Linked DNA regions of Homo sapiens: region 1 is linked to region 2. Evidence: fine-mapped expression QTL. A gene starts in region 2. The other region holds a variant in brackets. All regions are shown on one strand. Distances are between the middles of the regions. Region 1 overlaps C8orf44-SGK3 (C8orf44-SGK3 readthrough). Region 2 holds the start of SNHG6 (small nucleolar RNA host gene 6).

Region 1 (5,528 bases), 120 kb before region 2:
TGAAAGCAAAATTCATCTGCTTTCTTAGAAATTTATTGTCAATCTATTCATGTAGAGAAAACACCAAGATCATATCTTCTCCTAAGATAATAAATGAGTAATATGTATTTGGAACTGTAACAGCACGTTCTAGCCTTAGCACTTGCCATACATGATCTCCTTTAAAACTCACAGCAAATCTGTAAGGTCATTGTTAAAATTATCCTCATTTTATAGGCAGGAAAATGAGACGCAGATGTTGAGTATTTTATCCTAGGTCACACGATACTAGGTATTTTATTGGGACTAAAAAAGACGATTAGTTTGTGACATTTTATTGGTATAATTTATGTTATACTTTGGATGATCATAAATTCAAAAGTATGTCTTATGATGGATTTTCTTTAAAATAAGATTGTATTTGGCTTTGATGTGTGCATAACTAGAAGACTTATAAAATTAGTTCATATAATGTTATTTTTAAAAATTTTAGTTAAAAAAACAGTTTCCTGCTATGGCCCTGAAGATTCCTGCCAAGAGAATATTTGGTGATAATTTTGATCCAGGTAAGAAACAACTTCATAGGCCAGCTATGAAGTGATTGTTGAAGTTTGAAGAAGTAAATTAATGTATTCATTGCACTGTATAGCAGTGCAGGACTTTAAAAGATCTTATGCTCTGTGAAAATAATGCCGCAGGAAGGTGCTTACTGTCTACTAGGCATTGTTTTAAGTACTTCATGTGTTTTAATTCATTCGATCCTGACAACTTCGTGAGGTGGGTATTGTTGTTATCACTATTTTTATAGATAAGGAAATAAAACACAGGTTCATTAATTTGCCCAGGACCACATACAGATAGTAAAGGGCAGATGTGGAAGTTAAATTCAAGCAGTCTGACTTCTATATAAATTTATCTGTCAATGGGCTGGGCACAGTGGCTCACACCTGTAATCGAAACACTTTGGGAGGCCAAGGCAGGAGGATCACTTCAGGCCAGGAGTTTTGAGACCAGCCTGGGCAACCTCATCTCTACAAAAATTTAAAGATTAGCTGGGCATGGTGGCGTGCACCTGTAGTCCCAGCTACTCAGGAGGCTGAGGCGAGAGGATAGCTTGAGGTCAGTAGTTCAAGGCTGCAGTGAGCTGTCATCATGCCATTGCACTCCAGGCTGGGTGACAGAGCGAGACCCTATTAAAAAATTTTTTAATTGATCCTTCAGGTTAATTTGGGAAACTTTACAGACTTTAAATCAGTATCATGAAGAATATTCACTTTTGTATTCAGAAACATTAAATATATACTGTGTACATAGTAACTTGTAGGCCTCTGAATGGGATACCAAAAAGATATCCTAAGCCGGGCACGGTGGCTCACGCCTGTAATCCTAGCACTTTGGGAGGCTGAGGCAGGTGGATCACAAGGTCAGGAGATCGAGACCATCCTGGCTAAAACGGTGAAACCCCGTCTCTACTAAAACTACAAAAAATTAGCCGGGCATGATGGTGGGCGCCTGTAGTCCCAGCTACTCGGGAGGCTGAGGCAGGAGAATTGCTTGAACCCGGGAGGCAGAGGTTGCAGTGAGCTGAGATCAGCAGCACTGCACTCCAGCCTGGGCGACAGAGCGAGACTTCATCTCAAAAAAAAAAAAAAAAAAGAGAGAGGGACATCCTATTGCTTACCCTTGGGGAACCCATGGACACAGAGGGTCTCAGCATCTAGCACCTCTATGACTAAAGCTGCAGGCATGGAATTTTCCCCTAGAACCCAAGAGATTAATCCAGGTCACAGATGGCTACTTACAGGGAAACAAAAGTCTTCTTATCCACCAGAAATTCTATCAGAAAAGTCATCTATCTCTGCCACAGATGAATCCTGAATGGATTGCCCTCCTTCCCCAACTAATTTGCTTGTAACCTTGTAACTGGTTAAACTGATAATACCTCACATGTCTGTGTAAGAAAAGAAAGAGAGAGATCTTGGTCACTACTCAAGATAAAAGCTCTAAGGTCCCTTATATTGAGTGTGCTTTCTCTCTCCATCCTAACTTTATACCATTCGTTTTCCTCCCAGACCATATCACTGTGTCCTATATAATTCTGCCCACCATTAACGGACTGCTCTTTATCCTGCACCTTTTTCATATTTCTTCTACATTCTTCCTTTAATTAAAACATTTTTTCCCCAGAGGCTGCTTTGCCTATAGCCCTCTCAACTGGAGGCTTATTATTCTTTACACTTTATGAACCTCTGGTTTGGAGAATGTTCTTACTTCCCTGGTTACATACAGAGTTTTTTTTTTCTCTCTTTCTTTCTTTTTTTTCCCCCCTTGGGAGTATATAGCACATTTCATTGTAATTGCTAATCTGTCTTACAGTAGGCTGTAGATTTTCTGAAGGTGCAGACTTATGTCTTTTTTTATTGGCGAACAGTGGCAATATACTGGTTTTAAGGTATTATTTTATTACTTTAAAACTGGCAAATACTAGGTTTTAAAGTATTACTAAATATATGAACCCATTAATAAAGAGAAGCAAGAGAAAATTGAGTTGGCACAACAAAGCCAGATTATATTCTGTAGACCTGTGGCTTTTGTACTCCTGCTTTGTTTTCGCAGCGGAACACTTTTTTCCCAATTGAAATCTTACAGAGAGCAGATATGGTAGCTACGCCTGTAATCCCAGCACTTTGGGAGGCTGAGGTGGGCGGATCACTTGAGGCCAGGAGTTCAAGACCAGCCTGGCCAAAATGGTGAAACCCCGTCTTTACTAAAAATAGAAAAATTAGCCAGGCATAATGGTGCATGCCTGTAGTCCCAGCTACTCGGGAGGCTGGAGCAAGAGAATCACTTGAATCCAGGAGTCGGAGGTTGCAGGTGAGCCAAGATCGCACCATTGCACTCCAGCCTGGGCAACAGAGCAAGACTCTGTCTCGAAAAAAAAAAAAAAAAAGAAAACACAAAAGAAATCTTATGGAAATGTAATATGTGAAAAAAATTTAAATGGAGCTGCTTTATTGGTATAACAGTGAAGTATCTCCTTGGAGCACAGGTTGAAAAGCATCTTCATGGGTAGCGTGTGGGCCTTAGTGGCATTTGAGCAAGATGTGAAACTGACAGTGTGTAATTTATGGTGGGCACAGCAGAGGAGAGACTGGGAGACTTGTTAAGGGAATAGTCCAATAGCCCTGGCATTAGATAATGAGTATGGGGACTAGGGTAGAAATAGGGTTTAAAAATGAGCAATGTACAAGAACTCCTTTAATGAAAAATCTGGAATACATCTTGATGATTGCTTAGGTAACACATATAGAGAAGAGGAGAGATAATTGGAGGGTCTGCCCTGGGTGACTGAGACAATTAACTAATTAGAAGTGGCAGAAAAATATTAAGAAATCAAACTACTAGTGATAATATGAGACTTG[A/C]ACTTGGGTTGGAGTTCTGTAGAGCCCTTAACTGAATCCTTAAGACAATCATTTCATCAAGGAAAGAAAGCAAAGAAGTAAAAGACTGGCAACATTGCTGCTTCATTGTTAAAGGCAAGATACCAGGCTGAATGCTCTTTGGTACTTTGTTTTGATGAATTAATTGACACTAAAAACTGATTTTTTTGAAGAGCTGTTTGTCTATCCTGCGTATATTTAATATGACTTGGCAACAGTGAAAAGGATCATATGTCACAGAGATATTAGAAAGTCCTGCATTGGGGAAATCAGATCTAAGTCAAATTCAGAAAAACAGAGATGGATAAGATGCTCATTTGGTTATACTTTGGGGATACAGGCATTCCCATATTTTTCTGGTGGAATAAAAAGTGTTACAATCCATGTTGAGGGGAGTTTGGTAGTGTTTAGAAAAACTGTGAATGCATTTTCCACTTTGGCCAAGAAATCACATTTCTAGGAATCTGTCCCTAAAATAAGCTGCATATGATATAATGTACACACAAGACTGTGTATTGTGACACAATTTTTAACAGAAAAACTGGAAACAATGAAAATATTTTTCCAGTGGAGCTAGATATAACATACTTGTAAAAAGGAACAAAAAAGCTCTTTATGTATTTTGCTATGGTGTGATCTCCAGAATATACCATTAAATGGAAAAAAAAATCACAGTGCAGCAAATGAGTTTGTATGGTGTGTATTTTTTCTGTAGGAAAAGGTATGGGGATTCAAAAGGAAATAATGGAAGAATAAATAAAAAACTAATAAAACTAGTGACTTTAAGGATGAGGGAGAGATTGGGAAAGGCAAAAGGGGTGGAAGTTAGATGCCCTTGAATGAATTTTGTTCATACCTTTGACTTTGGAACCATGTACTATTTTAAACAATTTAAAAACAAAAATAAAAATGCAATAACAAAGCAGCCTCTAACAACTGAAAATAAACTGAAGGAAAAAACCTAACTTAATTTAAGTAACTTTAAAACATGGGATTTTGACTGTATATTCTTCATGGGATATATTGCTAAGGATAAAAACAAAAACCCATGGACAAATTTTACACTGCATTCATTAGTGTTATATGGCGTTGTTATTCTGTGATTAATGTTACTGTCATGGGAACCAAGATTTTAAGCAGAAGAGGAAAGTGATACAAACAAAATCAAAGATTTTAAGTAAAAATCCTGTAATTTTTTTTTTTTTTTTTGAGATGGAGTTTCGCTCTCATTGCCCAGGCTGGAGTGCAGTGGCATGATCTTGGCTCACCACAGCCTCCACCTCCTGAGTTCAGGCGATTCTCCTGCCTCAACCTCATGAGTAGCTGGGATTATAGGATGCGCCACCACACCTGGTTAATTTTGTATTTTTAGTAGAGATGAGGTTTCTCCATGTTGGTCAGGCTGGTCTCGAACTCCTGACCTCAGGTGATCCACCCACCTTAGCCTCCCAAAGTGCTGTGATTACAGGCGTGAGCCACTGCACTCAGCAAAATCCTGTAATTTGTAACTTAATTTGGAAATATAGTTTGAAATAATTATTTATTTATTTATTTATTTATTTTTTGAGACAGAGGCTCTCCCTTGTTGCTCAGGCTGGAGTGCAGTGGCGTGATCTCGGCCCACCACAACCTCCACCTCCCCAGTTCAAGCGATTCTCCTGTCTCAGCCTCCTGAGTAGCTGGGATTACAGGCGTGTGCCACCATGCCCGGCTAATTTTGTATTTTTAGTAGAGACAGGGTTTCTCCATGTTGGTCAGGCTGGTTTTGAACTCCAACCTCAGGTGATCCACTGGCCTCAGCCTCCCAAAGTGCTGGGATTACACCACCACCACTCCTGGCTCATAATTTATTTTTTTACCTTAGTAAAAATATTTTCTAGCACTCTCTCCTGGAAATGCCTAAAAGCAATAACAAGTAGTAACCAACACCCCTAGCATTCAGATTGTGATCTCTAAATACCATTTCCCTCTCAAAGGAACCAGAGTTTGCTGAAGAAATGGTGATCCCAGATCTGGGGCAGGAAATGTACAAGATGATCTCAGGGCAGCTTGCCTGAAAGCAGGGAAGCTATTTAGGATGACTGAAGTTTGATCAAAAGAACACAGGAG
Region 2 (5,000 bases):
CTAACATTAATTAAATTTAGGTACCTCAATACATGCCGCGTGATCCTAGTAGTTTTTTCACAACCTTCTACAAGTTTTTGGAAAACATCTGTTATGATGACTTTCATACACCTTCACCTCAAAGGCTTTCTTGCACCTGGAAATTAAATATTACATTTCGAATTCCCATTTTTATTTGCATTTTGTTGGGCATCTTATATGTAGGAATGGTCCAAGAAGAGAATCTCATTCCTTTAGGAACTGTACTTGCAACCTACCTTTCAGACTCCCAAACCACTTTTTAATAAAAAAGTACTATTATTCTATTACCTGTTTCTGCTTTTTTGATAGTCAGTACTGACAAACCCAAACCTCTGTAACTGAGTATGTTTGTCTCATTAGTACCTAGTATTTCCACAAATGAGCTTATTCCAAACTGGAAACAGGAGCCATTAGCACTGGCAGGAAAATGGTGGAAACATTTCATGATATCCTTCACTGTGGCAGTTTTGATTTTAAGACATAATGGTCATAGTGAGTACACAGCCGTTGCTTTTCTGTCTCACAGCTCGACAAGGATGAGCTATGAGCCAGGTTAGATGTATAAAAACTAACGTGAAGACCTTCACCTAAAAACATTATAACGGCAAACCTAGCAGTTTCAGAGCAGGGATACCTATATTGGCATTTTTACTGGACACATTCCTGTAAAATTAAGTCCCAAGTTAACTAAAAACTGCAAAGAACATGGACTGGGGCAAAAAATCATGTCATACAGCAGCCCAGGAGAATAAATCATTGAGCCAGGCAGCAATACGAAATGATTTATGAAGACATACAAGGTTGGAGCTTGCAAAAACAATCATTTTCATGTGCTGAAATGCTGAAAATGTTTCACACAATCAGTATTAGGAATATAAACTACTGGTTTTGAATAATTCAAAAAAAATTAACTGAAACAAAAAAAGTTTCAGTTTAATATTATGATTCACAGGAACTACAGACAACTACATGCATAATCCTGTCTTTACAAAGCTTAAAAAATGGGCCGGACACGGTGTCTCCCGCCTGTAATCCTAGCACTTTGTGGGGTCGGGGCGGGTGGATCACCTGAGGTCAGGAGTTCTAGACCAGCCTGGCCAAACCCCATCTCCACTAAAAATACAATAATTAACTGGGCATGATGGTGGGTGCCTGTAATCCTAGCTACTCGGGAGGCTGAGGAAGGAGAATCGCTTGAACCTGGGAGATGGAGGTTGCAGTGTGCTGACATCGCGCCACTGCACTCCAGCCTGCACGACAGGAATGAGAATCCATCTCAAAAAAGCAACAAAAAACCCCACAAAGCTATCCACACCACCCCCCTCCCCCACAAAACCCAAAAGACTGATGGGCACAAAATTCCAAATGGTGGGTACCTATGAATAGGAAGCAGGGAAATGTAAACAATAGATACCCTAGTATTGGTAATATTATAGTTCTCAAATGTATCGGTGGATTCTTTTGTATTATGCTTCAGAACTTTCCTGCACTACCAATTTTATCAATTATTTAGTTTGAAAATTTTTAGAAGTCCCAGCACTTACCAGTGAAAACAGAATTCAAGCTACTGAAGCCTCAAAAATAATAATACCTAAAATATTTCAAGGATAAGCCATGACATTCGTCTTCTTGACAGTTAATGATTATTTCAGACGAAGCAATGCATTTCAAATTTGAAGAAAAAAAAAAACCTATACGAAGTCTCACTGATGAAATTTTAAAATTTGTTTCTATGGCCGGGCGCGGTAACTCACGCCTATAATCCCAGCACTTTGAGAGGCCTAGGCGGGTGGATCACGAGTGGTCAGGCTGGTCAGGAGTTCAAGACCAGCCTGGCCAGATGGTGAAACCCCGTCTCTACTAGAAATACAAAAATTAGCCGGGCGTGGTGGCAGGCGCCTGTAATCCCAGCTACTCGGGAGGCTGAGGCAGAGAACTGCTTGAACCCCGGGAGGTGGAGGATTCAGTGAGCCAAGATCGCGTCACTGCACTCCACCCTGGGCGACAGAACAGACTCTGGCTCAAAAAAAAAAAAAAAAAAGTTTCTGAATAGCTAACAGGTTTTCCCAGCCTCCCAGTTGCTGACCGGTTTCTTCTGTATTATGTCCAGAAATACACATCTCTATGTAAATACAAGCATCTCCGTGTGTAGCAGGCATTTAGCCTAAGGGCCTCCTATACTTGCACGTGTTGTTCTCCAACCTCCATGCCTTGACTTTAGCGCGTATTACGAAGGAAGGTCCAGGAACAAATACTGACTAGCTCTACGAATGGGTCGAGACTAGTAATGACTCAGTAAACTGCGCTCATTACAGTTTCAAAGCCACTCACAAAGTACGGTTAACTAAGGGTCGTCCTGACACCTAAGGGATAATCACCTTCCTATTTATAAAACGCTCCCTTTTAAGGAAAACAAGCTGCCTAAGAGCCTGAAACCGCCAAGGCCGCACGCACAACTTTGCTGGGGACACAAGAGAGATCTGGCCAAGACCGGGTGGAGCACGAAGCCTCCCGACGGTCCCTTGCAGGCACCTCCTTAAGTCAGAAGGCCCTTGCCCAGTTTCTGAGCAGAGGACAGCGAACCGGTGTTGACGGAGAAAGGTCAGCTAAGCCTTCCAGGTGGTTACTCACAAAACGCGACTGCGCAAATGGCTTGTGGGGAAAGCTCGTGGGCCTTGGGGGCACCGGGAGCGTAGCCTTTTGGCCTACGCAGCAGCCGCCCGCTCCGCTGCGCCCGGGGAAGGGACAGGGGCCGCGCTGGGCACCCATATGGCGGAGGAACCCGGCACGTAGAGGAGTTGGACCTAAGACCGCGATCACTCTCACCTCGCAGAGCCCAGCTACGGGCCCGCAGTCTCCGCCGCCGCCACCACACCGGCATGACTAACGGCTCTTCGCGCTTCTTCCTCCCTCGCCGGTCGCGCGGGAAAGGAAGAGCGACATCGGAAGACAGCTCTTAGGCACTCCGGTGGCCCCGCCTCTTCCGGTACGCGGCCCCGCCCCTCCGCGGGTGCGAAGGGGGGCTGAGTGCACCGGCTCTGGGGAGGGGGCGGAGGGGAGATGAGACCCGCACCTTAGCCCTCTTCCCTGGTTGCGCGGTGCGGCGACGCTGTGTGCCACACAGCAAGTTTATGTGGGGGCTTTGTGACTTCCCGCAGGGGCTTTTCAGGCTCAGGAGTAACTCTGCTAGAGCTAGTCAATGTTTAATTTACCAGTTTGCAGTGGATGCAAACGAGCAGAATATGCCCTAAAAGGCCGGGCGCGGTGGCTCAAGCCTGTAATCCCAGCCCTTTGGGAGGCCTAGGCGGGAGGATCACCCGATGTCAGGAGTTCGAGACCAGCCTGGCCAACATGGTGAAACCCCCATCTCTACTAAAAATACAAAAAAATTGGCCGATTGTGGTGACGCGTGCCTGTAGTCCCAGCTACCCGGAAGCTGAGGCACGAGAAATCGCTTGAACCCGGGCAGCGGAGGTTGCAGTGAGCCAAGATCGCGCCACTGCACTCTAGCCTGGGTAAGGCTCCGTCTCAAAACAAACAAACAAACCAAAAAACATATATATAGCATTCATAAAGCAGTTACCTACCTTGTTTATGAACATGTTATAATTTGCTGTTGATTTTCACGTCTTATTACTTCTGTTTTTCTCATTGTATTATAGAATCCTGACTGCAAAGCACTGGGCTTGATGCTGGAGCAGAAAGGCTTATGATCTTGTTGCCAGAAAGAATACACATGAAAGCATATGATTAAACAATCTACTCACTTAAAGATAGGTCATCTCTCCTTAATATTTTTGGCTTTTGTTTTGTTTTGAGGCGGAGTCTCTCTCTGTCGCCCAGGCTGGAGTGCAGTGGCTCGATTTCAGCTCACTGCAAGCTCCGCCTCCCGGGTTCACGCCATTCTTCTGCCTCAGCCTCTCGAGTAGCTGGGACTACAGACGCCCGCCACCACGCCCAGCTAATTTTGTTGTATTTTCAGTAGATCCGGGGTTTCACCGTGTTAGCCAGGATGGACTCCATCTCCTTACCTCGTGATCTGCCTGCCTCGGCCTCCCAAAGTGCTGGAATTACAGGTGTGAGCCACTGCGCCCGGCCAATTTGTTTTTGTGTTTTGGTTGGTTGGTTTTGTTTTTAGAGACAGGGTCTCCCTCTGTTGCTCAGCCTGGAGTGCAGTAGTGCAGTCATGGCTCATAGCAGCTTCCATCTTCTAGGATCCTCAAGAGATTCTCCCACCTCAGTCTTGAGTAGCTAAATGCTCACCACCATGCCCTGCTAATTTTTAAAACGTTTCGTAGAAATGCGGGGGTCTCACTATGTTGGCCAGGCTGGCCTCCAACTCCTGGCCTTAAGCTATCCTCTCGACTTGGCTTCTCAAAGTGCTGGGATTACAGGCATGAGCCACAGCGCCTGGCCAATCTCTCCTTTAGACACCGGAAATCTAAGAAACGAATACAAAATCCGGTACAAAATTTCAATTTGTCTCAAGTAACATAGAGTATGAATATCTAAGCCTAGTAAGCCTAGCAAAACAAATTGTGATTGTACCTCCTTTAACAAAGGATTGCAAAGTATTTTACAGGAGCTTAAAAATCTTTGCTTGGGCCTCCAAATGGAAGCCGTTTCTCCTGTTAAGTAGTGACATGGACCTCAACCTGCTTCTTGGACTAAGATTCCTGGCTGGATGTTGCTTCCACAACCTAATTTTGCAACCTGGGCTGTCACCTCCAGTGTGAAGGGGAAGCTGTGGGAGCCACCATTACTAAAAGGTATAAGTGAGAGTTAGTTTGGACATTAAATCCATAGATGCTAAGGCAACAATTTAGGCAAGTTCTTGGTGTCACTGAGTGCAGGGCCATATGATAACTGGAGGCAAACATGGACAATTCCCCTGCCATGGTTCCAGAGAGGATAGCTCCTGCGTTGCTAACAGCTTTGTGTTGTCTCCTGCAGGCATTCACAGGGCATTCATTGACCTC

The links.
Region 1: its variant is fine-mapped to the expression of SNHG6 in whole blood (TOPMed, PIP above 0.99).

The regions. Positions count from the first base shown.
Region 1 is chr8:66,803,903-66,809,430 of GRCh38, forward strand. It overlaps C8orf44-SGK3 (C8orf44-SGK3 readthrough), which reads left to right. Exons shown (of 19, transcript NM_001204173.2): 6 at 473-545. It overlaps SGK3 (serum/glucocorticoid regulated kinase family member 3), which reads left to right. Exons shown (of 17, transcript NM_001033578.3): 4 at 473-545. Among named protein-coding and RNA genes, the nearest start is that of MCMDC2, 64 kb to the right of the region's middle. The variant A/C (reference allele first, on the strand shown) is at 3,402.
Region 2 is chr8:66,922,590-66,927,589 of GRCh38, forward strand. SNHG6 (small nucleolar RNA host gene 6) reads right to left here and starts at 2,952. Exons shown (of 4, transcript NR_152600.1): 1 at 2,848-2,952; 2 at 25-136. It also overlaps a transcript of MCMDC2 not described here. RefSeq lists an enhancer at 2,732-3,931 and a silencer at 2,924-3,123.